4 separate regions of the Homo sapiens genome follow, and regions 1, 3 and 4 are each linked to region 2. Evidence: fine-mapped expression QTL. A gene starts in region 2. Each other region holds a variant in brackets. All regions are shown on one strand. Distances are from middle to middle. Region 1 holds the start of TRAPPC12-AS1 (TRAPPC12 antisense RNA 1). Region 2 holds the start of ADI1 (acireductone dioxygenase 1). Region 3 overlaps RNASEH1-DT (RNASEH1 divergent transcript). Region 4 overlaps ADI1 (acireductone dioxygenase 1).

Region 1 (8,280 bases), 33 kb before region 2:
GAAGCCAGTAACCCTGATGGCATCGTTACCGAATGGCCAGGGTGTGCCAGGCGGCAAGGGTGGATTTGCTCCCTGAATGATCCATCCAGCTGAATCTTGAGTCATTCCGCGTTTGCCACGAGGGGCAGTGTTAGATCAGTGGTCCTCAAAGTGGGGTCCCCGAAGCAGCAGCACCAGGTTCTCCTGGGAACTTGACGGAAATGCACATCCTCAGCCACATCCTCTGATCACAGAGGAGTCAACTGCTGGGGCCTGGGCTGGGCCGGCCCGACAGTGTCGTCTGCACCGCCCTCCAGGAGCTTCTGGTGCTCCTGCAGGTGTGAGAACGCATGTCAGACGCCGGAGGCCACAGACAGAATTCCAGTTACACAGCAGGCGTTGGAGCCCATGGGCATCGCCATCCTGCCTTACACTGCTGGCCTCTTCTATGCCCCCTCGAGGATTGTGCCCCCACTTGTTCTCTCTGCCTGGACCCCTCCTGGCATGCACCTTCCTAGTCCCTATTCAGTGTCACCCCCTGAAGCCTGCCCTCAACCCCAGGACAGTGCAGCCCCGTCCACACTCCCCTTACCTCTTGTCCTGGACCCACACAGGCTCCGCAGCACCTGCTCCTGGCACGGCCCCACAGTTGCAGTACTTGGGCTGGAGCTGCCGCCATGAGGTCCTCCTTCAAACACCCAGTTCCAGCGTTCCCCGGGAAGCTTCCCATGCCATCTTGTCACGTCTTGCACCCAGCACCGAGGGTGAGGCCCGGCAAAGCAGAGCTGCAGGGGCTCAGCTGTGTACACCACAGTTCTTGAGACGCCCACCTGTGTGTCCTCCCCGATCCTGCTCCACAGGTCCAGGCCCAGGCCCAGAGGTAGCCCCTGCGTTCCCGTGGCTTCAGGCACACGTGTGCAGACATGACGCCGAGAACACCGGCTTTGCCACCAAGGACAGAAGACAGTCTGCCCCACCCGGGGTCACCTGCAGGTCCTGCTCTGACCAGGGTCCAGGCCCTGATTCCGGGGATGCGACAGCACCCAGAATGTCCTGCCTTGTGTGGCACGTGGGACCGGGGACTCGGGCCCCAGGGCTCCCAACCCTGGCTGTGGAGAGTGGGTGGCTCCGCTGCTGGTCGGGGGCACTGTGTGGGCAGACAGCGTGCCAGTGGCCACAGGATGTCCTGACAGCAGAGGCGCTAAACACTCCAGGAGCGCCTCAGCCCCAAGCTCTGGTTCCACCCCTTGCGGGTGAGGGAGGCCCAATGACAGCCAGACTCCATCAGTTCAGAGGCAGGGGCTAGAGATGGATTTAATTCAACTTAAAAAGAAATACAAGAATGGACCTTTTCTGCAGTCCTGAGGGAGTGGACAGGTTGCGTGCGTGCTCTGACGGTGGGATCCAGACCCCCTCCTCTCCTGCGTTGAAGGTGCCACCGGGCCTCATCCCCAGCCACATCACATCCTGAGCCTCTTACAGGCAGGCCCCGAGGTCCTTTCACCTTTCTCTTCTCTCCAGTGCTTGGTGCATTTTCAAACTCAGTACCTTTCTTTTGAATAAATGAGCAAGAATAAACCCGGTGCTGCTTGCCGAGCTCCTCTCCCTGGGCGGGGAACTAAAGCAAAACCACGCTGGATGGGGTCCCAAACACCCTAAGAAGGCCGAGCTCCTGCCGCTCTCCAGCACGCGCACCGAAGACCGGAGGGAGGGTCTGTCGCTCTCCTGCAGGAGCACGAGTGGAGGGAGGGCCTGCGGCGCTCCAGCAGGAGCATGAGGAGTGGAGGGAGGGCCTGTCACTCTCCAGCACGCACACCGAGGAGTGGAGGGAGAGCCTGTCGCTCTCCAGCAGAAGCACCAAGGATTGGAGGGAGGGCCTGTCGCTCTCCAGCAGGAGCACGAGGAGTGGACTGCCGGCCCGTCACTCTCCAGCACGTGCACCACGGAGTGGAGAGAGAGCCTGTCACTCCAGAAGGAGCACCAGGAGTGGACTGCGGACCCGTCACTATCCAGCACGTGCACCAAGGAGTGGAGGGAGGGCCCCTTGCTCTCCAGCAAAAGCACCAAGGATCGGAAGTAGGGCCTGTCGCTCTCCAGCACGTCCCCCCCCGGCAGTGGAGGGAGGGCCCGTCGCTCTCCAGCATGAGCACCCAGAGATGGAGGAAGGGTCAGCCATTTGTCAGGCTCTGCGTGTGAAAAGCTGTGATTTCATTTCTTATCAGTTATTACTGTCACTATCACTCAGGATGAAATTGGCCTCACCCGCTCAGGAGCAATGCTGCCTTCTCCCTGTCCTCCTCCTGGATTGTTGAGGAAAAAGCCAGACTAACCTGTTCCACACCTTGGCATCAGTTGCATAAATGCTATCTCAGCATGTTCTAGAACACAGTACTGTTTAAACAACGTTCTGGGGGTAACCAAGTTTATAACTTGCAGACCCGATGGCCGTAAAGCATGGGGTGGGGGGGTGCCTGCCTGCATTGCAGCTGTCAGAGCTGCACAGAGCCTGCGACACCCAGCCATGGCTTCTGCCCACCAGGCCACGTCCCTCCGCTCCTCTGAATCCTTCCAGTTCTTCTTAGGCCACTTAAACGCCACCGTCTCCACGAAGTCCTGTCGGATCACCCTCATAGGAAGTGACAAACCACGTTTTGAACCCCTCTCCCCACCCAGCAAGCCCCTAGCCCGCGAGCATAGGATTTCCTTTCTAGAACACGTGTTCTGTGAAGGGCCAGAGGCAATATTTGAGGCCTCGTGGGCCACATGCTGTCCCTGTTGCATATCCTTTTTTTTGTTTGGTTTGGTAAACTGCTTAAGCTGGCAGAACAACAGAACCCGCACATTCTCCACGCAGCCCAGCGCCCTTGGCCATGCAGGGCTGTGCCTTCTGCCAGCTCTGGAGGCCCAGGGGCTGGCATGGGCCTCCCGTCCTGAGCCCCCCATGTACATTGCACCCATACTGGGAACGCCCCCAGGATCTGCTGCGAGACCCCCAAGGACCAGCTTCTGCAGTCCTGGAAGGGCTCTCCTGACCCCCAAGTCCGCCATCTTCTGATGGTGGCAGGTGGGCACAGTCACTGGCTGAGCGACCAAGGGTCAGTGAGATTACTAGGCCGGCGCTGCACCCAACTGAAATGAACTCACGTGTCCTCACAACTCCTAGCAGCAGATGCTGTCAGCCTCGCATCCTACAGGAAAGGAACCATCGCCAAAAGACGCTGAGGAACATCCCGAGGGTCACAGGGACAGTGCAGAGCCAGGACCAGCCCGGCCCATGGTCCCCCAGCGTGCACCACCTGGCCCGGCACTGTGTGCTCAGCCATGAGGACTGGGAAGAGTCCTGCCCACAGCTCAAGTGTCTACACCGCACTGCCATCCAGGCTGTGAGCCGCTGCTGAGCATGGGGAATGTGGCTGCTGCAGAGACGTTATGAAACACTTCTAAAAGAATGTAAAAGATCTCATTAATAATTTTGAGTACCTGTTAAAATGATAGTAATTTTGGATCTAGTAGATTAAATAAAACATATTATTAAAATTAAGATGACCTTTGAACATTTTTAACGTGGCTACTAGAAAACTTTAAGTTACGTATGTGGCGCCCATTTGTGGCTCCCATTCTGTTTCTGTTGGATGGTGCCAAAGAAACCAACACGTAAAAGCCCCTGCAGAGGAGCCGCTGCTTTGCCAATGGTTAGTGGTCAGTGTGGGTTCTGCCCTCTGGGTTCCTGGCAACCAGGGCTGCTCTCTGAGGGCTGAGGTTGCCACGGGCTAGGCAGATACTGGCCCTGCAGCCCTCACTCTCCGGAGGGCGTGGGGCATGGGATGGGATGTTTCAGAGGACGTGGGGCATGATGGGACGGGAAGTTTCAGTGGGTGTGGGGCATGATGGGACGGGGTGTTCCGGAGGGCGTGGGGCATGATGGGACGGGATGTTTACTCTGCTCCATGGCCTTACAGTGTTAAGTGTAAGTCAGCATTGAAAGCAGTTTTCCCTGGAACATAGAATTCTAGTTGATGCGGATCCAGAACCACGGAGGGTCCTACAACTGCTAGGCTGAAGGCTGACTTACCAAAGGCCACAGAGCATCTCTCCCCCAGCAGGTTCCTGTGGCACTTGCATGTGTGTCTTTTTCTTTTTCCCCCAAATAATTTTCCAGTTTTATTCTTTTCCTTTGACATAGAAGAACACAATTACCGAGAGAAGAAAAGGAAGGCGAGGGTGACTGCGCGCCTCCCCATCCCCACCCCCATTCCCACACGGCTCATTTCAACTCTGGGAGGGTTTACAGGTAAGAATGTGAAAATCAGAAACGTCAGGTAACTTTTCCAAGGACCCACAGTTTAAAGCGGGAGAGAGGGAGGGATTCCAATCCAAATCTAACAGTGAGGCTCATGGTGGTGCCACGATCTGTGTTGCCGTTTCACACACTGCATATTGCTTTGCAGTGGAGAGCTGAATCCACAGGCAGGGCCGGACCCACCAATGGGCTGC[C/T]GTGGATAGGCTTTGGGCTCCAGCACCACACACATGGCCACACGCTTACACATACAACACACACATGCACTCACACACGGAGGACCGTGTTCACCTGCGTCTAGGTCCTTTCCACCTCGAGGTTTACCTTTATTGGACCTGGAACCCGATTACGGGCAGTCTGTTCCCGCGTCGCCCACCCTCGTCCGTGGGAGAAGTGCCATCTCCGGGACCGTGTTAGGCGTCCAGCACAGCCAGCCAGGCTCTCCAGCCTCACTCCCTCCACCCCAGGGCCCCGAGGCTCTGCCCACCGAGATGACACCCTGCGACCTCCACCCTGGCTCCTTCTGGTCACCCTGACACCCACTCCTCAAATGCCCACAGTGAGCCTGGGGTCCTGCTGCCTGTGGAGTGGACCCAGTGCGTCTCCCTAAAGCCTCCAGCTGGCTTGGCCTTTGTCTCAGCCTCCACCTGCTTCCCGGGGTCAGGGAACCCTGCCAGCTCCCTGGGCGTGCTGAGCTGGACAGTCAGCGAACTGCATCCCTGAACCCTCGCCCACTGCTCCAGGAAACTCACCCACCCTCAGGGCTGCTGGAATTCACATCCGATGGGTGGAGTTTATTCTCTGCACCCCAGGGCCCCCCACACATGTCAGGAGGAAGAGCTGCCCTGGCACCATGGGTAGACTGCAGGGAGACCCCAGGATGCGGGGAAACCCCAGGATATGGGGAGACCCCAGGATGCGGGGAAACCCCAGGATATGGGGAGACCCCAGGATGCGGGGAGACCCCAGGATGTGGGGAGACCCCAGGCTGTGAGAAGGCCCCAGGCTGCAGGGAGACCCCAGGATATGGGAGACCCCAGGATGCGGGAAGACCCCAGCATATGAGAAGGCCCCAGGCTGCAGGGAGACCCCAGGATATGGGGAGAAGCCAGACTGCAGGGAGACCCCAGGATGCAGGGGAGACTCCAGGCTGTGAGAAGGCTCCAAGCTATGGGAAGACACCAGGCTGTGGGGAGAAGCCAGACTGCAGGGACACGCCAGGATATGGGGAGAGACCTGGCTATGGGGAGAGCCTGGGCAACAGGGAGAGGCCAGGCTGTGGGGAAACCCCCAGATGGGGACAGAGGCCAGGCTGTGAATGGGAAACTGCGTCTGTTTCCTGAGGCTGCCGTAAGACACTCCTAAGTATGAGAGCACAGACTTGATTCCCTCCCCATTCTGGAGGCTGCCGTCAGCAGGCCATTCCTAGAGAGGCTCCTTCCTCTCCTCTTCCGGCCTCTGGGGGCTCCCGGTGCCCTTGGCTTGTGGCCACATCACTCCGGTCTCTCCTCTGGTCACACAGCCTCCTCCGTGTGCCAAATCTTTTGCGGAGCCACTTAAGATGGTATTTGGGGCCCACGGTAATCCAGAATAATCTTCTCATCTCAAGATCCTTAAGCTAATTACATCTGCAAAAGCCCTTTTTCCAAAACAGGTCACGTGCACAGGTCCCAGGGCTTAGGATGGGGCCGTGACCTTGGGAATGCTCAGCGGCCAACCACAAACGCCCACTGAGTAGCTTCCTGGGGCTGCTGTAACAAGGTGCCCAAACAGAGCAGCTTAAAATAGAACTGCATCTTCTCACAGTTCAGGGGGCTGGAAGGCTGCACGCGAGCTGCAGGCTGGCTGCATTCTCTGGAGGCTCTGCAGTGGCGTCTGTCCCAGGCCTCTCTCCGTGGTGGCCATGGCAGTCCTCGGTGCTCCTGGCTTTCGGCCACATGGCCCCAGTCTCTGCCTTTGTGTTTATGTGGCCTCCTCCAGTGTCTCTGTCTTCTGTTCCTGCAGAGACAACAGTCTTTGGAGCTAGGGCCCACCCTAGTCCAGGATGATTCCATCTCAAACCCCTATTTAATTACATCTGCAAAGACCATTTCCAAAAAGGTCACATTCCGAGGTTCCGAGCAGACATGAACTTTTAGTGGACGTTATTCGAGCCCCTCCACCTCACAGACAGGCTCTGGTGGACTCCTCACCTCAACCCTGCTCCAAGGGTACATGATGTCCCCCTTTACAGACAGGGAGACTGAGGCACAGCTTGAAGAACCTGCCCACGGCCACACAGCTACTGCAGCAGCAGAACTGGGGTGATTCCATCTGAGCCTTCATCCATGCAGACACCTCCAAGCCCAAGGCATCCACGGAGGGCTCCTCCCTCGTCTTCTCCACACCCCAAGCTCACAGGGATGTTTCTCTGTGGAGGTGGAGCAGGCAGTGCTGCCCTGGGGCCTCTATCCTGGGATCTCTGGGGCCAGCTTCAATGTCATCATGGGTGGCCGCTGGCCCAAAGTCCTGCTCAGCAGCAGCAGCAGCAGGACAGGCCTCTGGAGAGCATGCCTCTGTCTCTGGCCCTGCCAGTGGCGTCCTTGTGTCCTTGGGGACCCCACACACACACATTCTTCTGCAGAGGCAATCAATAAAGCCGGGGCACCAAGGAGGCTTCAGGAGTGATTAGCAATGGAGCAGGCTGGAAAATACGCGGACGCTAGGGCAGATCGTATTGATTCCATTGACTTGCCCTTTGCCAGGCTGTTGTATTTATAACTCAGATGAAATCCTATTTGGATTTTAGAATGGGTGGGTTTATAACTCAGATGAAATCCTATTTGGATTTTAGAATGGGTGGGTTTATAACTCAGATGAAATCCTATTTGGATTTTAGAATGGGTGGGTTTTTTTGAACAGTTGGTGCAAAATAAACACAAGCATTTTTAACATGGACAATGAAACACATTAAACTATAATAATAAAGGCAGGCAGGCAAGCACGTCCATGGGAAAGTGGTTTCAGTTGAAAAGTAAGCTCCACCCCAGAACTGTCACACCTGCACTGCTCACGCCAGGGACAGACCGTGATAGGAGCACAGCCTCCTGTCCTCCAGCCCCCGCCCAGCCCAGCTTCCCCAGCCCTGCTGACCTGGGGGCTGTCTTCATGCCTGGATGCTTCTAGTGCCCTGCCCCCGCCACGTTTAAGAGAATGTTTTGAAAAATAATCACTTCCCAAGGCAGAAAACAGAGAGCAAAACACAGAGCGATTCAGAAGAGCCGCCTGCTCAGGGGTGCCCCGGATGTTATCTGCAACCTGGCACGGCCCGACTGCAGGCCTCAGCCCTGTGCCCTGGCCCCACCTGAGCAATTCCTCTGCCCTCTTCAGGGCCCAGCCAGGTGGTCACAGCAAATCTGGTCAGGACCAGGGACAATCAGCCCGCAGGGACGTCCTGCCTCAGCCATCCACTTGATGGTGACGACTGCCCCGACCCCTCTCTCTCAGCAGCTGTGCCTGCCTGGAGCCCCCGTACCCCTCACCCGGCCGTAAGGGCTGCTGCACCCTCTGCTCTCCTCACTGGACTGTGGCGTCCTGAGGAACCCACCAGCCACTTTCTTATGCATCTCGGCACTCAGGGGACAAAACCAGCTCTCCCGGAGGGGCTTGTGGGACCGAGTTTCACTGAGAGACATGGTGAATGGAAGAACTTCACGCATCATAGCAGGCAGAGGACTCCGGGAGCCCTTGACCCAACCCACAGGTCATCTTACCAGTACTAGCGACTCACTGCGGTAGTGAGTTGGGTGAGGCCCAGAAGTCCCTCCTGGTCACTTGCGATGGGATGAAGATATTTTTGAAACCTAGAGAGACAGGGTTATCTAACAGAGTAAGAAAGCCAGGGCTGGCTTCTTTCCCCTCGGAATGAAGTTCAAGCCTCCTCTGTCCCATAAGTGCACAAATGTCCACCGTGCTAACTTTACACGCTCCATTTTTACTTTGGGCAAGCAGGATTTGCAGCGCGG
Region 2 (8,280 bases):
ACAATCCTATCTCTATTAAGGTTCAGTTTTACTGTTCCTTCCTGACGAAGCACTTCCCTGATGAAGCTCCAGGCAGAATTCATCTGAACTCTTATTTAAAACTACTGGCAGTGAATCTAGCACACTTTATGTTTTGCAATAAACTGCACATTATATCATCACTACTTACTGAACAACAAACTCCAGTGTTGCAGGAAGTCAGGGACCCCGAATGGAGGGACCGGCTGGAGCCATGGCAGAGGAACATAAGTTTTGAAGATTTCACGGACATCTATCAGTTCTCAAATAATACTTTTATAATTTATTATGCCTGTCTTTAATCTCTTAATCCTGTTATCTTCGTAAGCTGAGGATGTATGTCACCTCAGGACCACTGTGATAATTGTGTTAACTGTACAAATTGATTGTAAAACATGTGTGTTTGAACAATATGAAATCAGTACACCTTAAAAAATAAAATAACAGCGATTTTTAGGGAACAAGGGAAGACAACCATAAGGTTTGACTGCCTGCAGGGTCAGGCAAAAACACCCATATTTTTCTTCTTGCAGAGAGCCTATAAATGGGCGTGCAAGTAGAGAAGGTATCACTAAATTCTTTTCCTAGGAAGGAATATTAATATTAATACTCTGGGGAAGGAATGCATTTCTGGGGGGAGGTCTATAAACAGCTGCTCTGGGAATGTCTGTCTTATGCGGTTGAGATAAGGACTGAGATACGCCCTGGTCTTCTGCAGTACCCTCAGGCTTACTAAGGTGGGGAAAAACTCCACCCTGGTAAATTTGTGGTCAGACCAGTTCTCTGCTCTCGAACCCTGTTTTCTGTTATTTAAGATGTTTATCAAGACAATATGTGCAGCACTGAACATAGATCTTTATCAGTGGTTCTGCTTTTGCCCTTTGCCCTGTGATCTTTGTTGGACCCTTATCAGTGGTTCTGCTTTTGCCCTTTGTCCTGTTCCCTCAGAAGCATGTGATCTTTGTTAGACCCTTATTAGTAGTTCTGCTTTTTGCCCTTTGAAGCCTGTGATATTTGTACCTACTCCCTGTTCTTACACCCCCTCCCCTTTTGAAACCCTTAATAAAAACTTGCTGGTCTGAGACTCAGGCGGGCATCACGGTCCTACCGATATGTGATGTCACCCCTGGCGGCCCAGCTGTAAAATTCCTCTCTTTATACTGTCTCTCTTTATTTCTCAGCTGGCCGACACTTATGGAAAATGGAACCTATGTTGAAATATTGGGGGTGGGTTCCCCCGATACTCCAGAACATATTAAAGTACTAGTCATCAATACGTTATTTTCTACAAAGTTGACTCTAAAACTTAGCCTATCCACTGCATGATATGCACAGTACTATTTGCTATGGTCTGAATGTGTCCATATTATGACACATAATATGTAATATGACACATTATATGACACGTGTCATAAGTTTAAATATACGAATGTTGAAACTTAACACAAATGTGATAGTATTAAGGGGTGGGACCTTTAGGATGTGATTAAGTCATGAGGGCAAGCCCTCATTTATAGGATTAGTGGCCTTGTAAGAGAGATGGAGCTGGGCACTGTGGCTCACACCTATAATCCCAGAACTTTGGGAGGCCAAGGTGGGCAGATCACCTGAGGTCAGGGGTTCAAGACCAGCCTGTCCAACATGGTGAAACCCCATCTCTACTAAAAATACAAAAATTAGCCAGGCATGGTGGTCCACGCCTGTGATCCCAGCTACTCGGGAGGCTGAGGCAGGAGAATCACTTGAATCCAGGAGGCAGAGGTTGCAGTGAGCCAAGACTGCGCTACCAGCCTGGGTGACAGAGCGAGGCTCCATCTCAAAAAAAAAAAAAAAAAAAAAAAAGAGCAAGAGAGATGTAAGAGAGCAGTTTGCCCCTTCCACCACATGAGGACAGAGCAAGGAAATGGCCGTCTATGAGGACAGGATCCTCATCAGACACTAAATCTGCTGGCACCTTAATCTTGGACTTCTTAGCCTCTAGAACTATAAGAATTCTATAAATTGCTGTTGTTTATAAATTGCCCAGTTTAAGCTATTTTTGTCATTTTGTTATAGCAGCAGGTATTTAGTTTATTCCAAGCTAAAATAATCTTCCAATTGTTTGTATGTATGACAAAAGGTTTTTTAGAACTCTATGTCACTAATAACAGATTGATTAAACAGATACACAAACATGTCCACATGTGTTACCTCTGTTAAAAATTATGGGAGATGTTACATATATATAATGTTAATATGGGGTGTGTGTGTGGCTTTTTTGTTTTTTGGGTTTTTTTAGAGATGAGGTCTCAAACTTCTGGCTTCAGGCAATCTGCCGCCTCAGCCTCCCAAAGTGCTGGGATGACAGAAGCCACCATGCCTGGCCCAGGAGAGGTCACTGTTTTGGACTGAGCCCCTGCACTAGGCCCCAGGATGAGACCAAACCAAAATGCAGCCACTCATGCCATATGCCACTTGATCAAACTAAAACTTTAAAGAAGGAGGTGCATCTCAAACAGACCAGCTTTTCCTGCGATCAGAAGATTCCAGTCTTCCTGAGTCAGAATAATAAGGAAGTCGCTTCTGCTTTAACCCTTAGGAAAAAAGTAACCTAATGTAACTTGACGTTAACCAATCAGCTTTTCTACCTATTGTTCTGTTTCTTTGTTGCCGCCCTACAAAACCCACTGTTGTGCTATTACCCTATCGAGCTCTTATTCTATTTTGTAGAACGGAGGTTGCCCTATTCACAAATCAAGAATAAAAGCTAATTAGATCTTTAACTAAATTTGTTGTAATTTTGTCTTCCAACAGCACTGATCCAGAATGGATATTAAGAAAGCATATAGGCCGGGTGCGGTGGTTCGTGTCTATAATGCCAGCACTTTGGGAGGCCGAAGTGGGTGGATCACCTGAGGTCAGCAGTTCAAGATCAGCCTGACCAACATGGAGAAACCCTGTCTCTACTAAAAATACAAAATTAGCCCGGCATGGTGCTGTGCACCTTGTAATCCCAGCTACTCGGGAGGCTGACACATGAGAATGGCTTGAACTCGGGAAGATGAGGTTGCGGTGAGCCGAGATCATGCCACTGCACTCCAGCCTGGGCAAAAAGAGCAAAAAAAAAAAAGAAAGGAAGAATATAAAAACACACAGGACATTAAAACCACAGAGTAAACATGATTTAATTTTGATAGCCCTGACTCAGAGCAGAACTAGACGGTAGGAAAAACTATGTTTGAGCCCATGTAATAATCTAAAAGATGTCTATTAAAATAAATCTTATTTTATTCTTTGAATACATTAAGAAGCTGACCTGTAATCTCACTCTTGTTCTTGTTCTTAAAACCGTCAAATGCACAATGAAACTCCCCAAGTGTATTAATTTGAACCCTCTGGTTGTTTGGATTGTGGATAAACATAATAAGTCAAAATTTATTCTCCTCTCATTAATGGAAAACTATAAACCACTTGATTGCTTTGAAGAAGTACCCTCCAGCAAGGTAAGTGTTAAACCTTATCCTAGGAAAAGACAAATACTATGTAAACATTAACATGCATGCCCTGTTTCGCACTGGTATGCCAATTGTCACTTCCCTCTTCTGTTATTTAGGATAGAACAAGATGATATCCAAATAGATTATGCTGGAATATTCTATAATCCTTTCCCAAGGGAAAAAGTGTGGTGTCCAGGTAACCCTGTGTATTTCATTTAAATCACATGAATGAAGATTAGATCCAGTCACCCCTCAGCCTATCCCTGAGGCCTACCCTGGCCCTCTCTTTTGCAGTAAACCTTTGTTACTGCAAAACCATTTGCAAATAAACAAGGTGAGCGGATCTGGACTGGTGCTGTGCAAGCAACGGGACACCGGTGCAAAGCCTAGCCCCGCCTTGCAAAGCTAGCGTTACAGAGGCAGGGCTGACACCGGGCCCAGCCGGGACCCAAGCCAGCTCCACCGCCCACTGGAGACGCCCCCACCCCACCACCGAGCGCTACCCCCCGGGGATCCCCGACAGACCGCGGCAGGACCCCGCCTCGATCTGCTGGCGCCCGGTCCCTCCCCCAGGACACTTTCAAGCGGAGTCCCCCTTCCTCCGATAGAAGAAACCCCTGGGCCTTTGACCGAGGTTAGCCAGGCAGGCAGGGCGTCGGACAAGCCCAACGAGCCCACGAACTCGCAGCCCGCCTCCGGCGAATCTTGCAGCCCTGCCGGCCGACCCTTCAGGTCGCTGCCAATCCCGGAGCTGCGCGTGCGCAGCGAGTCCCGGCTGCGAGGCCCCTGACTCGCCAACTCTGCTGCTGAGCATGCGCAGCACACCCCAGGCAACAGAAACGGACCGCCGACCCCCACCAGCCCCGCTGCTGAGCATGCGCAGCCCACCCCAGGCGCCGGAAGCCGACCGCCAACCCCGTAAACTTCGCTGCTGAGCATGCGCAGCACACCACAGGCGCTGGGGGCTGACCGCCGACCCCTCAACGCCGCTGCTGAGCATGCGCAGCACACCCAGGCGCCGCGCAGGAGGCCCTGACCACCCAGCCCCACTGCTGAGCATGCGCAGCCCACCCCAGGCACCGGGAGCCGCCACGAACCCCCAAATCCCGCTGCTGAGCATGCGCAGCATGCCGCGGCTCCCAGGCCGCTGCCCGGCACCTGGAGGAGGCTGGGCTGTGCGCGGCGTTTGGGGGTCGGCGTCGCCCGCACGCTCTGCGAGGCTTGGGCTCGCGTACCTTCCAGTAGAGCACCCCGAGCCGCCGCAGCTGCTCCAGGCCCACTGGGCGGCCGGGGTCGGGGCGGTGGGGTTGCCGCGGGTCGCCCGGGGCGTCGTCCATATACCAGGCCTGCACCATGACGCGCAGTGCGGGTGCCGTGTTCGAACCCAGGGGCCGCGCTCGGAGCCCGTCGGCCGCGCTTTATCTTATAGGGAGGCGTGGACGCGCATGGGAGCCGGGATTGGGCGGCTGGTTGGAGGCAGGGCCGGCGCGGGGGAGGCCCCACGGCTCCGCTGTTTTCGGAAGCAAAGGCATTCAAGCCCCGACCCTGTCCTGGGCACCCTCGGACCTGCCTGAGGCCCGCGGCCCGGGGCCAGCCGTTCGCCAGACGCGCCGGGCAGGTGAAGCTCACCGTAGGCATCGCACGTGCCTTGTGTGTGCTGCCGCGGTCTCCCTGCACCTTCAGAGCAATCTTGTGAGGCAAACGACGTTAAACGTGTTTAGAGTATGGAAAGCAAATGCAAAAAAAAAAAAAAAAGAATAAGGATTTTGTTAAGCTCATGCAGTCCATATGGGCACAGTTGAGACTTCACAGCTCGGATCCCAGGTGAGACATTGTCCTCCACCTCCCCGCTCGCCAGACTTTTGCAGTGTCGGCATTCTGCAGTGCTACCCTGTACTTTTTAAACTTCCTCTTGTTTCCTCTTTTCATCGTTTCTCCCTTCCCCATACACTGTAATGTGCTAGTCTTAGAATAAAAACAAGCTTCCCCTATCCCATTCTGAATTTTTCAATGTAGCTAATAAAGTCCAGCCGCTTGACCATCCTAGATGTCTTTTCAAACCAACGAGTTGAAAAAGATCAGATTATCTCAGCCATTCCCTCAGTCTCTTTAACAAATAACGATAAAGCAGACAGGATTTAAATGAGACTGCTGTAAGAGCACAACCCCAATGCATGCAATTGACTCTTGAACTTCCAGAAATATTGCAAGAAAAATACACACTTATTTCATTTCTGTTCCCTTGCTCTAATGGCTTTGCAAATACATCCTCCTTAGAGAGCCTACCTCTCCACCTCTTCACTTGACCAGTTACTACTCATCCTTCAAGAACACACCTTAGACGCCATTGCCCATTTTTCTGCAGCACTCATGACAAACCTTCATGCAAGAATCTAATGGCAATCTCGCACCTCGCATTTTCTCCTTAAGCCACTGCAATAAGGCTTCGCTTCTCACCACTGGGGAACTGCTAATGACTGCCATATTGCCAGATCCAATCATGGCACTTCTGTTCTTACCAGCAACATTCGTCACAGTTGCCCACGCCCTTCTTGAAACATTTTCTCATTTTCCTTCATGAGGGCATCTTGGCTGCTCCTTCCCAGGCCCCTCCTAGCTCCTGCTCCTCTAACCACTGGTTAGTGGAGCGTTCCAGACTCTCCTCGTCCTGTTCCTATCCACTCACTCCAGGCGACTTTCCATGCTGTGCTGCCGGCTCCTGCAGCCACATCTCCAACCTGGACCTCATTCCAGAACCTCAGGCTTGAGTATCCAGTTGGTGTTGTCACATACATGGCTAATCAGTGTGTCAAACCTAACATGGCCAAAACAACTGATTCCCCACACACACCCCCAAACATGCTTCTCCCTAACCTTTCCCGTCTCAGTGAACGGCAGCACTGACTGCCCAGTGGCTTAATAAAAAAATCTAGGTGTACTCTCAGTTTTGCTTTTCCTCACCCTCAAGATCCAATCCAATCTATCAGCAAGTCATGTTGCTTTGACCTTCGAAACACACCGCAAATCCATTCACTTCTCTCCAGCCCAACTCTTTCTGCAGTCTTTTCTTGCCTGATGGAATTGACTACTGAAATTCCCCCTCCTCACACCGCTTCCATTTTTGCCCCAGTGCAATCCATTCTATGCACAGCACCCAGAGTGACCTTTTAAAAATAGGAGCCAGATGCCAGGCACTGTGGCTCACGCCTGTAATTCCAGCACTTCGGGAGCCCAAAGAGGGTAGATCACTTGACCAGCCGAGGCAACATGGTGAAACCCCGTCTCTACTAAAAGTACAAAAATTAGCTGGCCGTGGTGGTTTGCACCGCTAGTCCCAGCTACTCTGCAGGCTGAGACAGGAGGATTGCTTGAGCCTGGGAGTCTGAAGTTGCAGTGAGTTGAGATTGTACCACTGCACTGTAGCCTGGGTGACAGAGCAAGACTCTGTCTCAAAAAACAAACAAACAAAAAAACATGGAATCCAGTCAAGCCCCTTTTCTGCTTCAACCCTCCTTTCTATAGCCTCGGCCTGACCACCTCACAGCCCATCGCCCTCCTTTCTTGTTCTCTGTCCTCCAGATACTTTGGCCTTTCAGTGTATTTGAGTCATATGCTCCTCCTTCCTTTGGGCCCTTCACCCATGCAGTTTTTCCACTGAAAATGCTCTTCCTTCCTCCAAGTACTTTTCTCCTATACAAAATTCTAATTTCAGCTTAACTATCCCTTTCGTAGAGAAGCCTTCTCTGACCACTCCCTAGACAACTAGATGGGCTCTCCGTGTGAAACACTGCCATGGTGCTAGCTTAGAGTTTGTAAGGACATGTTGACTTGATGTCTTTTCACCAAAGGACTGACCACTCCATGTGTTGTTTGGTACTTGCTGAATGAATGGATTTGTCTGTATTGCTGAGTGCCGCATATACCTTGAGGTCAGAGAATGTGTCTTATTAGTCCTTCAGTGCTTGGTACATAGTAGACAATTTTTTTAAAAGTTTGTTGAATGAAGGGATAGGATGAGGAACACTCCAAATAGTCTTTACTGTCTTACTGTAACTGCACTCCTATCTCATATCTAATGCTTCTCATTTACTAGAAAATAGTAGTACTAGGCTGGGTGCTGTGGCTCATGCCTGTAATCCCAACACTTTGGGAGGCCAAGGTGGGAGGATCACTTGAGGCCAGGAGTTCCAGATCAGCCTGGGCAATACAGCAAGACCCCATCTCTACAAAAAATATTTTTATTAAAAAGAAAATAGTAATTGTGACAATAATAATAGTAGTGTGTGCTGGGTAACATTTTAAAGATTTGATGCATATTATTATTTTTACTCCTCATGATTACACTGTGAAGTTGGTATGACTTATTATCCACATTTTAAAGATGAGACATGGGAGGCTGAGGCAGGAGGACTGCTTGAGCCCAGGAGTTTGAGACCAGTCTGGGCAACACAGCAAGACCCCATATCACTTAAAAACAAATGAGACAACTAGGACACAAACAGGTGAAGTAACTTATGGTCACACAACCAGAAGTGACAAAGCTGGTATTTGAGCTTGGGGAGCCCAGCCCAACAGCCTGTACACATAACTGCTAAAATCGAGTACAAGAAGTAATGATGTGGGTTTCATCCCATCGTAGAATAAACTTCATCTTGAAATTGGAAGAGTGCTTCCGGTTCCCCTCCCACCCCCAGGCTGCGGCAGCCCCACACCATTATGTATCTACCATTTGTCAGCCTCTGTCTTCAGTAGCTGTTCCTTTTTTCCTATTAGGTATGGGGGAAAC
Region 3 (8,280 bases), 47 kb after region 2:
AAGTCACTATTGCCATTATCTATTATACTCTGTAAATTAGGAATAACAAAACCATTTCTGCTTATTTCTCAGGGTCCATTCAAGAATTGTGCCCACAATATACCAGGCACTTGTCCAGACCTGCATCGTCCAATGCCCACCTCGACCTCCCAAAGTGTTGGGATTAGAGGCGTGAGCCACCGCGCCCTGCCTGCATGTGGCTATTGAGATGTGCTGTATGATACACACCGGACTTTGAAGACTCAGTGTGAAAAATAAAAAGAATTTTAAGAGGGGTGGGGGTCGAGGGGAGGCAGAGCAGTAGGACAAATAGCTAATGCACGCAGGGCTTAAAACCTAGACAACAGGTTGATGGGTGCAGCAAACCACCATGACACATGTTTATCTATATAGCACCTACATGTTCTGCACTTGTATCCTGGAACTTAAAATTAGAAAAAAAAAATAATAAAAGCCAACATGGCATTCATTACTGCCAAAAAAATTAAAACACATTGTTAATTTTGTATATTGATTACAGGTTGAACTGATAATATTTTGAATATATTGGGTTAAAGAAATACATTTAAAATTAGTGGCTAGGCACAGTGGCTCATGCCTGTAACCCCAGCACTTTGGGAGGCTGAGGCGGGTGGATCACCTGAGGTCTGGAGTTCGAGATGAGCCTGGCCAACATGGTGAAACCCCATTTCTACTAAAAATACAAAAATCAGCCGGGTGTGGTGGTGAGTGCCTGTAATCCCAACTACTTGGGAGGCTGAGGCAGGAGAATCGTTTGAACCCGGGAGGTGTAGGTTACAGTGAGCCGAGATTGTCCCACTGCACTCCAGCCTGGGTGACAGAGTGAGACTCCATCTTAATAATAATAATAAAACTATTTCTTGCTGTTTTACTTTTCTAATGTGACCACCAGAAAAGTTTAGATGGCTTGTGTGACTCTCATCATTGAACGGAGCTGTTCTAAACATGGGTAAGACAACGCAGAGCTTCGGTTGCAGGACAGAGAATGAAATAATAGACCCATAAGACAGATAAGTGACTGATTGTGACTGCTAGGGTGTTTACAGCATAGGCCGGTGACAGGAACGAGGAGTGTGGGGATGAGAGCCGACGTGGGCGAGAGTGCATGCAATGCAGGGTCAGACGTTGGATTCATCTCTCAGGAGTTGAAAAAGGTGGCGTTCCTGTTCTTTATTGGCATTGCTTGTGACACGAGGATTGCCCCTCTTCCTGAAGAGGTTGGTCAGGAAAATTTTTTGTTAACTTTTATTTTAGGTTTGAGGGTCCATGTGCAGGTTTGTTTCATGAGTAAACTCATGTCATGGGGGATGGGTGTACAGATAATTTCATCACTGAGGAATAAGCCTAGTACCCGATGGGTATTTTTTCGGATCTTCTCCCTCCTCCCATCCTCCACCCTCAGGTAGGCCCCGTTGCCCACCGTTCCCCTCCTAATATCCCTGTGTTCTCGCTGTGGAGCTCCCACTTATAAGTGAGAACACGCGGTGTTTGGTTTTCTGTTTCTGCCTTAGCTTGCCTCCACCTCTATCCATAGTGCTGCAAAGGACATGATCTCGTTCCTTTTTTATGGCTTCATGGTATTCCACGATGTAAATGTACCACATTTGCTTTGTCAAGTCTACTGTGGATGGGCATTTATGTTGATTCCACATCTTTGCTATCATGAATAGTGTTGTGGTGAACATACACCTGCATGTGTCTTTATGGTAGAACGATTTAGATTCCTCTGGGTATATACCCAGTCATGGGATTGCTGGGTTGCATGGTAGTTCTGTTTTAAGTTCTTTGCAGAATCACTATGCTGCTTTCCGCAATGGTTGAACTAATTTGCACTCTCAATATTATATTGTCTATAGCTGAGAAAGCTGAAATGTAAAGATTAAGTCACTTGTCCTCAGACATGTAGACAGGAAGTGGTACAGCCAGGACTCAAACCTGCCTCCAGAGCCCGTCCTCCTAAACCTAAGTCATGGTTTTCAAAGTGTGGTCCTTGGATCAGCAGCAAAAGCACCACCTGGGCACTCATTAGACATGGAAATTCTGGGCCTCAACCCGGACCTCAGCATGGGAATCCCTGGGGGTGGAGCCCGGCGGTTTGTGTTTGGGCAGCCCCAGCTGACTCTGAGGCACCATCAGGTTGGAGGCCACAGTGGGTGATAGTCCCTGCCCTGTGGTAGCAGCCGGCCTCCCTCCTTCATTTCTGTTATTCCATCTCCTTCTTAAAACAACCCTGTGAGGCTGGCAGGGCAGATGTCGATTTTATTTAACAGATGAAGAAACTGACCCTTGAGGTTTTATGACTTACCCAAAGTCATCGCATTAGTTTTGGAACTGAAACTTCAATGGCAGATCTTCTGGCTGTTAGTCTGAGACTGGAACTAGTACCCACAAGGACTCTGGGAGCAGTAAGGTCAGAGCAGGAGCTACTGCTTCATTTCATTGCCTCTAGTGAAGGAGGAGGGGGGTTCCCAGAGCACGGCTTCTCCATGGGTCTAGCCCATGATAGCTGGGTGCTTACCCTGATGTGCTGATGAGATTCTGCCTTATCTCCTGCAAGCCATTTGTGCTGTGCTAGGATTAAACAGTACACTTTGGAACCTTAGCTGCCCACACCCTGAGAGCCAATCACGCAGAACCCACAGGAAATCTCGGGGCAGAAGTAGTTTGCCATAAATGTCCATTTTCTCATTTTTTGTTGTTGTGACGGGGTCTTGCTCTGTCGCCGAGGCTGGAGTGCATTGGCGCAATCATAGCGCACTGCAGCCTCAACCTCCTGGGCTCAAGTCATCTTTCCACCTCAACCTCCAAAATAGCTGGTATTACAGGTGTGCGCCTCCTGTATAATTAAAAAAAAAACATGTTTTGAGGCCGGGTGTGGCGGCTCATGCCTGTAATCCCAGCACTTTGGGAGGCCAAGGCGGGTGGATCATGAGGTCAAGAGATTGAGATCATCCTGGCCAACATGGTGAACCCCCGTCTCTACTAAAAATACAAAAAATTAGCCGGGCGTGGTGGCAGGCACTTTTAATCCCAGCTACTTGGGAGGGTGAGGCAGGAGAATCGCTTGAACCTGGGAGGTGTAGCTTGCAGTGAGCTGAGATCACACCACTGCACTCCAGCCTGGGCAAAAAGAGTGAAACTCTGTCTCAAAAAAAAAAATGTTTTGAGGTTACAGGGAGCTATGATCACACTACTGCACTCCAGTCTAGATAACAGAGCGAGACCCTGTCTCTGAAAAAAAAGAAAAAAAATTCTTTGTAGAGACAAGGTTTCACTATATTGCTCAGGCTGGAATCAAACTCCTGGCCTCAAGCAATCCTCCTGTATTGACCTCTCAAAGGGCTGGGATTACAGGCGGGAGCCACTGTGCTCAGCCTGCATTTCCTGATGCAACTCGTTCACATTCCATCCATTATCAACAATCCCCACAACTTCACCTCCTGCCATGGATGCCTGAGGCTGGGGAAGGGGAACTTCATTCGGGTGTGGGCGTCACCTTAGCCACAGAGAACCTAAAAGAGTGATCAAGCCTCACCTGAGGTTGGGAGTTCGAGACCAGCCTGACCAACATGGGGAAACCCCATCTCTACTAAAAATACAAAATTAGCCAGGTGTGGTGGCGTGTGCCTGTAATCCCAGCTACACGGGAGGCTGAGGCAGGAGAATCGCTTGAACCCGGGAGGCGGAGGTTGTGGTGAGCCGAGATCGCGCCGTTGCACTCCAGCCTGGGCAACGAGAGTGAAACTCCGTCTCGAAAAAAAAAAAAAAAGACTGATCAAGCCGACTGAAAGTCAGGGTGCTCTGTTATTATAACTGAGCACCGGGAATTCTAAACACTGTCAGTGATAAATACTCTTCCCAGAAAAAAAACTTTCTTGTAATTATATGTGTATAATTCCATTTTTATCCCTAATCTTTTAACAAACATGTCTTACATGGGAGTTAATCCCAAGGGCTCCCAGCTATGCACTTGGTTCCAACACGTCTT[C/T]GTTCAGCCACAAGAAGTTTATTTGGTTCAGAAGCAGAGTGCTAGCTTCAGGCACAGTTTGATCCAGCTGATGGGCACTGCAACCTCCTGCATGTAAACAGCAGGTTTGAAGTGAACCGTGGTAGCACTATGACTATAAAGACAAACGAGGAGAACTTGCTTTACTTCACTTCATTCCATGTGATCACTTGTGCTTAAAATTTGAATCAGTGAAACAGGGCGGTGGGAACCGCAAGCTGAAATATTTTTGTTATAGTGTGGATTTTAGCTCATATATTACACATTTTACTGAATTCAAATAATGTCTTTAAAATTGAAATTTAGCCAGGAGTGGTGGCTCACGCCTGTAATCCCAGCACTTTGGGAGGCCGAGGCGGGATTTCGAGACCAGCCTGGCCAATATGGTGAAAACCTGTCTCTGCTAACAATACAAAAATTAGCTGGGCGTGGTGGCACGGGCGTGTAGTCCCAGCTACTCAGGAGGCTGAGGCAGAAGAATCGCTAGAACCCGGGGAGCCGAGATTGGGCCACTGCACTCCAGCCTGGGCGACAGAATAAGACTCTGTCTCAAAAAAATATTAAATAAATAAATAAATAAAATACAATTGAAATTTATTTTTTTTGGCCAGGTACGTTGGCTCATGCTTTGGGAGGTCAACGGAGGAGGATTACTCGAGGCCAGGAGTTTGAGACCAGCCTGGGCAACATAGTGAGATCCTGTCTCTACAAAAAAATTTAAAAATTAGCCAAGCGTGCCTGTGGTCCCAACTTCTTGGGAGGCTGAGGTGGAGGATTGCTTAAGCCTGGGAGGCTAAGGCTGCAGTGAGCCGTGACTGCACTACTGTACTCCAGCCTGGGTGACAGAGTGAGATCTTGTCTCAGAAAAAAAAAAAAAAAAAAAGGAAAGAAATTTATTGTTTTTTAAAAGTGTAATTGTTGGGTTTTTTTTTTTTGAGATGGAGTTTCACTCTCGTCACCCAGGCTGGCGTGCAGTGGCGCGATCTCGGCTCACTGCAACCTCCACCTCCCGTGTTCAAGTGATTCTCCTGCCTCAGCCTCCCCAGTAGCTGGGATTACAAGCACACGCCACCACGCCCAGCTCATTTTCGTATTTTTAGTAGAGATGGGGTTTCGCCATGTTGGCCAGGCTGGTCTCTAACTCCTGACCTTAGGTGATCTACCTGAGGCCTCCCAAAGTGCTGGGAGTGCAGGTGTGAGCCACCATGACCTGCCAATTTTTGGTTTTGAAACCGAAGAATAATTAGGAAAATGATGATTATTCCTATTACATGATTATAATTTAAAATAGTTTTGTTGAATGGATACGGGTGCTGAAATAATGCATTCTGGGTATCAAATGGATGCTTGGAGTGGATGGATAGATTGGATACCTGGTCCCTCCAAATCTCATGTTGAAATCTGATTCCTGGTGTTGGTGGTGGAGCCTACTGGGAGTCTTGGGGTCATGTGCCTCTTGGTGCCATCCTCTTGTCCCCTCGGGAAGGAGTGAGTTCTTGCTCTGTTAGTTTTTGCCAGAGCTGATGTTGAAACGAGCCTGGCACCTCCCGCACTCCTCTCTTCCTTCCTCTCTTGCCATCTGATGCCAGCTCCCCTTCCCCTTCTGCCATGAGTGGAAGCTCCCTGAGGGCCTCACCAGAAGCAGATGCTGGCGCCATGTTTCTTGTACAGCCTGCAGAACCTTGAGCCAAATAAACCTCTTTTCTTCATAAGTTACCCAGCCTCGAGTATTCCTTTATAGCAACACAAACAGGCTCGGACAGAACGCCACTGCTGCCTCCCCAACCCCTGTGAGTCCTTCCATGTACACACCCGCCTCGGAATCTGCTCATTGTGGGAGGACTCTCCAGCTTACCCACTGAGACTGAGTAGCAGTAGACATGCCCCCTTGCGGCCCAAGGAACGACTGGTTGGTACATTACTGTGCTAATGGCACTTTAATTGCAGACTTTCAGGGACAAGAAACTTTTGTGTTTCACCCCAGTAAATGACAGGCCCTAAAGTAAACTGTGAAGGACAATGCCAGCAAAAGTTTGAGGCCTGGCGCTCTTTACAGTAAGGCTTTGTGCGGTGATCTACCCGTTCCAAACCTAAGTTTCCTCGCTGGCAAAACAGGGATAAAGTTTCTGGTGCACAAATGCCACAGAATTGCTGTGGAGGTCAAGTGGCGTAGTCCATGTGACACCCTGGAGGACTAAATGATGAAGACAAAGGTGTGTGTGCGAACCATTTTCACCCAGTCCTCTCCTGCTCACCGCCTCTCTCTGAGCTGGGACGTTCACATGCATCGACTTCGGATTCCAGCTCTAGGTTTGCTGGTTGTGTGCATCTGCTGCATTGCTCCAATTCTGTTCTCTCCTGTGAAAAATGGAGATAACTGGCCAGGTGCAGTGGCTCACACCTGTCATCCCAGCACTTTGGGAGGCCAAGGCAGACAGATCATCTGAGGGCAGGAGTTCGAGACCAGTCTGGCCAACATGGTGAAACCCTGTGTCTACTAAAAATATAAAAATTATCCGGGCATATAGAGGATGAAAAGAACCAGTGTTCTTTTCATCCTGTACATATTTTGTGACAATTAATGGTAAGAATAGTGTTTCTTTTGATGAGATCTATCAAAGGTAAGCAAATTATCAATTTATGATAAAAATCGAGTGCAAATATTTCTATATTTTAAATATTAATATATGAGCAATTACTTTCCATATACCCACAGGTCGCCCATGTCTAGAGACGGTTTACTGCCATACAGGAAAAGTGGCCTTGACTTTACAGAGCAGGCCTGTGACCTTGCTTCAGTTAAGCGTGTGCTAACCCAGGAGTTCACTCTCATTACAGCCTGGCATATTCATCTCACTTGCACTGGTCCACGGACGATGATAATAATAAAGGCTCTGCCAGCTGTAAGTGGAGGGGAGAGAAAGGACCTTCTGTTAAATGCAATCCATTAATTCTTGATCGAGCAGACAGGTCCATAACTTCATCTCACATGCAAGGACTCATTAGTAACTTTCCTTCTGTCACTCCGTTATTAACATTAAGATTCGGAGGGGAAGAATGACTTTGAAGCCTGTGGCCTCCTCACCTATCTGACCTCTAGGCTTTCTGCAGCACAGAGATTATACATTCCAGGCACAGGATCCTACATAATAGAGAAGAAATTATATATAAAATATATATATTTTTAATAAAGAAAAGAATATATATATATTTTTTTCTTTAAATGTTTTTATTTATTTATTTATTTTTTTATTGATCATTCTTGGGTGTTTCTCGCAGAGGGGGATTTGGCAGGGTCACAGGACAATAGTGGAGGGAAGGTCAGCAGACAAACAAGTGAACAAGGGTCTCTGGTTTTCCTAGGCAGAGGGCCCTGCGGCCTTCCCCAGTGTTTGTGTCCCTGGGTACTTGAGATTAGGGAGTGGTGATGACCCTTAACGAGCCTGCTGCCTTCAAGCATCTGTTTAACAAAGCACATCTTGCACCGCCCTTAATCCATTTAACCCTGAGTGGACACAGCACATGTTTCAGGGAGCACAGGGTTGGGGGTAAGGTCACAGATCAACAGGATCCCAAGGCAGAAGAATTTTTCTTAGTACAGAACAAAATGAAAAGTCTCCCATGTCTACTTCTTTCTACACAGACATGGCAACCATCCGATTTCTCAATCTTTTCCCCACATTTCCCCCCTTTCTATTCCACAAAACCGCCATTGTCATCATGGCCCGTTCTCAATGAGCTGTTGGGTACACCTCCCAGACGGGGTGGTGGCCGGCCAGAGGGGCTCCTCACTTCCCAGTAGGGGCGGCCGGGCAGAGGCGCCCCTCACCTCCCAGAAGGGGCGGCTGGCCGGGCGGGGGGCTGACCCCCCACCTCCCTCCCTGACGGGGCGGCTGGCCGGGCGGAGACGCTCCTCACTTCCCAGACTGGGTGGCTGCCGGACGGAGGGGCTCCTCACTTCTCAGACGGGGCGGTTGCCAGGCAGAGGGTCTCCTCACTTCTCAGACGGGGCGGCCGGGCAGAGACGCTCCTCACCTCCCAGACGGGGTCGCGGCCGGGCAGAGGCGCTCCTCACATCCCAGATGGGGCGGCGGGGCAGAGGTGCTCCCCACATCTCAGACGATGGGCGGCTGGGCAGAGACGCTCCTCACTTCCTAGATGGGCTGGATGGCGGGGAAGAGGCGCTCCTCACTTCCTAGATGGGATGGTGGCCGGGCAGAGATGCTCCTCACTTTCCAGACTGGGCAGCCAGG
Region 4 (6,408 bases), 20 kb before region 2:
CAGCCTGCGGGATGCCACCTTGCAGAGTGTAACTCTTTACAAGAAATAATGTCTTTAGGTGGGCATGGTGGCTCACACCTGTAATCCCAACACTTTGGGAGGCCCAGGCGGATGGATCACCCAAGGTCAGGAGTTCGAGACCAGCCTGGCAACATGGTGAAACCCCATCTCCACTGAAAATACAAAAAAAATTAGCCGGGTGTGGTGGTGCACGCCTGTAATCCCAGCTACTCGGGAGGCTGAGGCAGGAGAATCGCTTGAACCCAGGAGGCAGAGGTTGCAGTGAGCCAAGATCACACCCCTCCACTCCAGCCTGGGCGACGAGAATGAAACTCCATCTCAAAAAAAAAGAAAAGAAAAAGAAAGAATGTCTCCTCTTCTAAATGTATAGATTGTGTCATCTTTTAGTTAACAAGATGAAGAGATGGATGGCAAGAAGAGAAATAAAAATCAGAAAGGAGATGATCCTATTCACTTTTCGGAAGTGAGGACAAAACCAAATAGGGAAATGAGCCGCCGCAGGAATGAAGAAGCCTGTAACAGCTATTCCAAACCGGGAGAGCGTCCTGGGGCCAGGACTTCATTGGGATAAGATGTTGAATCTGGAACAAGATAGAACAAGGCTGGACATTTCCTGGATTATCCACGCCTACTCCTTAGAAACAAGCGTGAAGTCCCCACAATGCGAGCAGGCCTCTCACCAGGTTGCCTGTGCTGTCTGCAGTGCGGTATCTACCTCGAGTAGGAAGACGGCAGGAAAAATCAAAGTGTCTTGAAAATGCCAACACATTAACCAGCTTGAAGCCATACTCAAGTGCGATAATTCATATTCTGATTTATTAATATCCCAGTCATAAACCCCATGGCAATAAATACATCTGTGCCTGTAAAAAGAGGGCACACTTGAAAAATAACACATGTCCAGGAATATCTTACTCAGCAAGCAGGCAGAGCCTGCTCTAAATTGACGAACTTGGACACAGTGAAAACCAACAGCTGTCCCGCTTGGGAAACTAACAGTTGGGCTCCTTGGAAAAAATACCTGATTTAGAATCTAACGAATGTGTTTATAAAGGACCCATCTTCTTTTTTTTGTTTTTTGAGACAGAGTCTCGCTCTGCTGCCCAGGCTGGACTGCAATGGCAAGATCTCAGCTCACTGCAACCTCCGCCTCCTGGGTTCAAGCAATTCTCCCACCTCAGCCTCCTGAGTAGCTGGGATTACAGGCACCCGCCATCATGGCCAGGCTGGTCTTGAACCTCTGACCTCAGGTGATCCGCCCACCTCGGCCTCCCAAAGTGCTGGGATTATAGGCGTGAGCCACCGCGCCCAGCCAAGGATCCGTCTTCTCTAACATTCGGCTTGAAGAGAGACCCCCCCACTACTTTACAGTGATGCCTTCGGGAAGAACAGCCTTTTACCTCCCTAGGTTTTCTCCCCGCCTAGAGTTCTGTTTCTTACTACATTACATTTCCGCTCGCTTAGTGTTTTTCAACCCTCGAGCTCTCCTCAAACCGTTCCATTGTTTAAGATACTAACAAGGGGCTGCCCTGACCCAGGAGACAGTGTAAGTGTAGGGATCAGGGAACAGAAGCAGGAACGCAAGACGCCGGATACAAACGTGAACATGCTGCAGGATTCCACGTGCATCAAATTCTAGAAAAGCCAAAACCCACCCACATAGGTTGCTTAGGATGGGGTGGGGGGACTAAGAAGGGGCATGAGAACCTTCTTTGGGTGATGAAAATGTCCTATGTTGTTCTGCCTGAGGTCATGCTGCATTTGTCAAAATTCAAAAACACTGAAAATGAGTACATTTTATTGTATATAAATGACACCTCAATAAAAACGAAAGATGTGAGCAACATCCTGGGAAAAGAAAATGTGATTTCACCTTAAGTGCTTTAGCAGAATTCTATTATATGCCTCAGCTCTTACTCTTTCTTCTTTTTTGAGACAGAGTCTCGCTCTGTCACCCAGGCTGGAGTGCAGTGGCCACAATCACAGCTCACTGCAGCCTCGACCTCCCAGGCTCTAAGAATCCTCCCACCTTAGCCTCCTGAGTAGCTGAGATTACAGGCATGAGCCACTGTGCCCAGGAACTTACTCTTGCCTGTAAAAATACAGCTCTGAAGTGAAGAAATCCCAGGCGCCACATCAAGGAGGCGAAACTAGAGTCCGCAGGAGGCCAGCCCCGCACGAGGAGTTTCAAACACTAAGGATCCTGACAGG[G/A]AAAAGTTATATGAAGCAAGAAAGGCAATTTAAAGCGATAGTTTATCATATGAATGTTTCGTTCTTAAAAATGAACAAGCTCTATTTATAATGCCCATTTAGAAATGAATCCATTAAAAAAAATCAGTAGATCAGCACTTATTTTAATTACTGAGATAGAGTCACACTTGACAGAAGCAAGCCCTGCGGTATATGGCATCATCACACCACCGGTGGGTATTTTAATCCTAAAACTGAGACAGAGTTTACTTAAACATTTAAGGCTTGAGTTTCCTCTGTACAGTGTGGAGGTGATTAAGAAAATTAATCCTAACATGAAGATTTTTCATCCAGTTAAAAAAAGAAATACTTTAAAAACGACCTGCCCTTCCAAAACATGAAGTTAACTTGGAGTTTTTCTGTGATATGACAAACTAGGCATAATCCTATCTCGGAATTGTTGAGTAGAAAATTTATGTACTAATACTCCTGTTAAAATTCAACAGCTTTATTGTGAAAGAATCCAGAGATCTCACACTGAAAAAATACTAACACAGCTCATATATAAATTACTTATCTATAAGAACAATTATAGAAGGAATCTAAATGGGGCAATTTTAACAAACCAGGCAAAATATCACATATACCTGAATATAAGGTAACTCCAAGCCATGAGTATAAGATTAAGGCAGTTACTTTATTTTGAACAAGGAAGTGGCATAAGCAACTCAGTGTGTGCCCCTTAGGGTGGGAGCTCTTCCCCCTACCACTCCCCACCCCAAGGCATCATTTTGGAGAAAAAAGTGTCTTCTATCTGGCTAGCTGTGTTATCTAGGATTGCACCTTCTTACACGGCAGGCGCGGCATCACGTCCAGATGGGCATCTAAGGAACTGCATTTCGGGAGATGAAACTTTCATTTGGGACTCAACTGAATGCATGAACTAACACAGGGCCATGGACCCACCAGTCTTGATTGAGTTACAGAAAATGAAGGTGACTCTTTACACTTCCAAGTTGCTTTCTAGATCCTTTCATTACAAAATATTCTGATCAAATAATCTTACAAAGGAAAGATAATCTAGCCTCAAGGCTATCCTCTAAAAGCAAAGAGAAAGTGATTGATTTTCTGCTCAGTCATTACATTGGGGACCTTTACGAGGCACGTGTTAGTTCCCAGGCAGCACTGCTAGGCGGTCTGTGCCAGAAATTTCACGTACTGCCCGCGGGCTTCAAAATGGTCAGCGGGCCGGTTGTACGCTGTCCACACCGGTTCTCCCACAAACAGCCGCATGGCCTTCGTGTAGTTCTGGAAAACAGACAAACACACCCAGCATCTCATTAAACCAGCCGGCCTTCTACTTAGTATTTATTAACATATCAACTTGTTAACATTAATTGCTATAAACACTTTACTTGCTATTTTTATTCTGCGTCTTTAACAATTTAGGCCACATTTTATTCGTGGAAGGAAAATTTGTATCAGGTGGTGCAGCTGGCCCTGCCTGTCCTCACGTGCCAGGTAAGAGCATCTGGAGCTGAGGCTTGGTGTTGAACTCCGCACCTCCGTGCTCTCTATAGAGACACACAGTCAGGAAAAGCACTGGCTCCAACCCCATGTACCCTCCACCTCCTCTCCGCCTCATTTGGCTACAGTTTTCCTAAGAATTAGCATCAGGGCCCACATGTTGCTGGTGGGCAGGAGAGGACAATTCAGCCACATCCGTCCAGACTAAAAACGCACGTGCCTTTTAATTCAGTTTTTACTTTTAGGAATTTACCCTACAGAAAAACACACAGAAGTGCAAAATGACAAGCATGTAAGGGTATTTATTACAGCCCTGTTCACAAGAGCAAAAAATTGAGAACAATGTATATACTCATTGTTGGGGGTCAATGACTCACTGAAATAAATTAATGGTTAAATACAGTACAGCATGTCCAGCGCCAGAGTACTGTGCAGCTGTAATCAGGGCTGAGGCTTGTAGACACTGAAATGAAACAGTCCCCAGTGAACATCATGTAGAAAAAAGTAAAATGTAGAACCATGGGAGGCCAAGGTGGGTGGATCACCTGAGGTCAGGAGTTTGAGACCAGCCTGGCCAACATGGTGAAACCCCGTCTCTACTAAAAACACAAAAATTAGCCGGGCGTGGTGGTGTGCCCCAGTAATCCCAGCTACTCAGGAGGCTGAGGCAGGAGAATCGCTTGAGCTTGGGAGGTGGAGGTTGCATTGAGCCGAGATCAAGCCACTACATGCCAGCCTGGGCGACAAAGTGAGACTCCATCTCAAAGAAAAAAAAAAAAAAAAGAATCCTGACTGACATGCACTTGGATATGTGTAAAGTCACTCTAAAAATAATTTTTTTAGTGGAATACTGGTTACTTTCAGGGAGAGAAACTGGGAGGCTGGGAACAGGGGTCAGAGGGAGACCTTTCACCAGGTCCCCTTTCATATTTCTAAATTTTAAACCATGTGCATTTAGTATTTATTCAAAAATTACCCTTAAATCAGCATTACCCCAATCGCCTCCAGTGAACCCCAAAACTACCTTATCTGTGTTTATTGCCAATCCTGACTGGACTGCGTTACTGTTCAATTCCAAAACTGAAATGTTTTTAAAAGTGACAGTATGGCAACATAACAACCCTACAGGCGCCTCACCACCAAACACGGGCTGGGGTGACAACCCTAGAGATGCCTCACCGCCAAGCAAGGGCTGGGGCAGGGCCAGGCTCGTGGGTGTGTACCTGCCGCCGCATGTACCTGCCGCCGCCTGTACCTGCCCCGCCTGGGTATGAAATGCACACCTGTCCACCAGGATCGCAGGCAGGGGCCACGGAGGCTGCCACGGAAGGACAGCTGTCACCTCGGACATCGCCTGCGGCTCCACAGACTCTCCTTGAAGCACAGGTCGAGGAGTCCCGAGCCCAGCGACCGCGCTTGGAGTCTGCGGAAGCCGCGCAGTTCAGCGGCAGAGATGCCACGGCCAGGGCCACCACACAGGCCGGGCCTGGGGAGAAAGCACAGCACTCCCACCTTCTCGTCCACCGTGAAGCGGTGATAGATCCCCGCGGGGAGCGTCACCATGTCTCCCTTCTCCATGAAGATCCGGATCCACTGGTCCTCCTTGTCCCTCACATCGAAGTACCCACTGCCATCCAGGATGTAGCGGATCTCATCGTCCAAGTGCAAATGCTCCTCGTAGAACATCTTAATCTAGTGCAGAAGGAACATTCCTGTGAGTCTACCAGAGACCTGTCACGCAAGCTCACACCCACCCACTCAGCAGCCTGAGCCTTTGGTGGGCCAGAGCTGAGGTGAATGGGACTTCTCTCCATAAAAATGAAACTACACTTGCTAAGAATTATTTTCCTAACAGTACAAGGGCCAGAGCTAGAATATTTTATGAAACCTGTCAACAAATGGGCAGTAACTGAAAGTGAACAGACCTGAAGCAAAGGTTCTGAACACTTCACACAGGCCAACTCACCCAACCCGCACGGCCCCACGAGGTGGCTGCTCTATCAGCCCCGTTTTACAGATGTGGAAATGGTGGCACAGAGAGGCTAAGTCACTGGCCCAACCTCACACAACGAGACTGCCCCAAAGACACCCTGGCCCCATGCTCACACCCACCCAGTGTGCTGCACACAGCAGTCATGAAATCACAACACACAGGGTGAGTGAGAAGCCAGTGGACATTGCAGGGAGGCAGGCACAGACTCCACAAGCATTTTCTATGTCTTCACATTGACTTTTGTGTATTTTTTTTTTTAGGTGGAGTCTCGCTCTGTTGCCCAGGCTGGAGTGCAGTGGCACAATCTCAGCTCACTGCAACCTCCGCCTCCCCGATTCAAGCGATTCTCGTGCCTCCCAAGTAGCTGGGATTACAGGTACCTACCACTATACCCAGCTAATTTTTGTATTCTCAGTAGAGATGGGGTTTCAACATGTTGGCCAGGCTGGTCTCAAACTCCTGACCTCAGGTCATCCACCTGCCTCGGCCTCCCACAGTGCTGGGATTCCAGGTGGAAGCCACCACGCCTGGTCTGACTTTTGTGTCTTTCTGAAAGTGTTTTCTTCCTAATATTTTATAATAAAAATATTCAAGTATGCAAAAACATTGAGAGTATTTTACAGTAAATATCCATACCCCCTTCACCAAGACTGTGCCCTTATAATCTGATTCTGCCT

The links. PIP is the estimated chance that this variant, and not a neighbour inherited with it, causes the effect.
Region 1: its variant is the best candidate, but not a certain one, in a credible set for the expression of ADI1 in whole blood (GTEx, PIP 0.52).
Region 3: its variant is the best candidate, but not a certain one, in a credible set for the expression of ADI1 in esophagus mucosa (GTEx, PIP 0.76).
Region 4: its variant is the best candidate, but not a certain one, in a credible set for the expression of ADI1 in whole blood (INTERVAL, PIP 0.87).

The regions. Positions count from the first base shown.
Region 1 is chr2:3,481,575-3,489,854 of GRCh38, forward strand. It overlaps TRAPPC12-AS1 (TRAPPC12 antisense RNA 1), which reads right to left and starts at 1,679. Exons shown (of 2, transcript NR_046720.1): 1 at 572-1,679; 2 at 1-311. It also overlaps the pseudogene LOC112268321. The variant C/T (reference allele first, on the strand shown) is at 4,474.
Region 2 is chr2:3,514,639-3,522,918 of GRCh38, forward strand. ADI1 (acireductone dioxygenase 1) reads right to left here and starts at 4,893. Exons shown (of 4, transcript NM_018269.4): 1 at 4,730-4,893. The coding sequence starts at 4,849. LOC124907725 (a long non-coding RNA gene) reads left to right here and starts at 4,908. Exons shown (of 2, transcript XR_007086195.1): 1 at 4,908-5,318; 2 at 8,268-8,280. RefSeq lists silencers at 3,800-3,999, 4,480-4,539, 4,620-4,939, 5,010-5,139 and enhancers at 4,559-5,080, 5,081-5,601.
Region 3 is chr2:3,561,245-3,569,524 of GRCh38, forward strand. It overlaps RNASEH1-DT (RNASEH1 divergent transcript), which reads left to right. Exons shown (of 3, transcript NR_038429.1): 3 at 73-506. It overlaps LOC124907726 (a long non-coding RNA gene), which reads right to left. Exons shown (of 2, transcript XR_007086196.1): 2 at 7,238-8,280. Among named protein-coding and RNA genes, the nearest start is that of RNASEH1-DT, 7.0 kb to the left of the region's middle. RefSeq lists enhancers at 3,296-3,345, 3,396-3,445, 7,041-7,646, 7,647-8,253, 8,254-8,280. The variant C/T (reference allele first, on the strand shown) is at 4,010.
Region 4 is chr2:3,495,564-3,501,971 of GRCh38, forward strand. It overlaps ADI1 (acireductone dioxygenase 1), which reads right to left. Exons shown (of 4, transcript NM_018269.4): 3 at 5,251-5,430; 4 at 1,803-3,519. The coding sequence ends at 3,400. Among named protein-coding and RNA genes, the nearest start is that of TRAPPC12-AS1, 16 kb to the left of the region's middle. The variant G/A (reference allele first, on the strand shown) is at 2,233.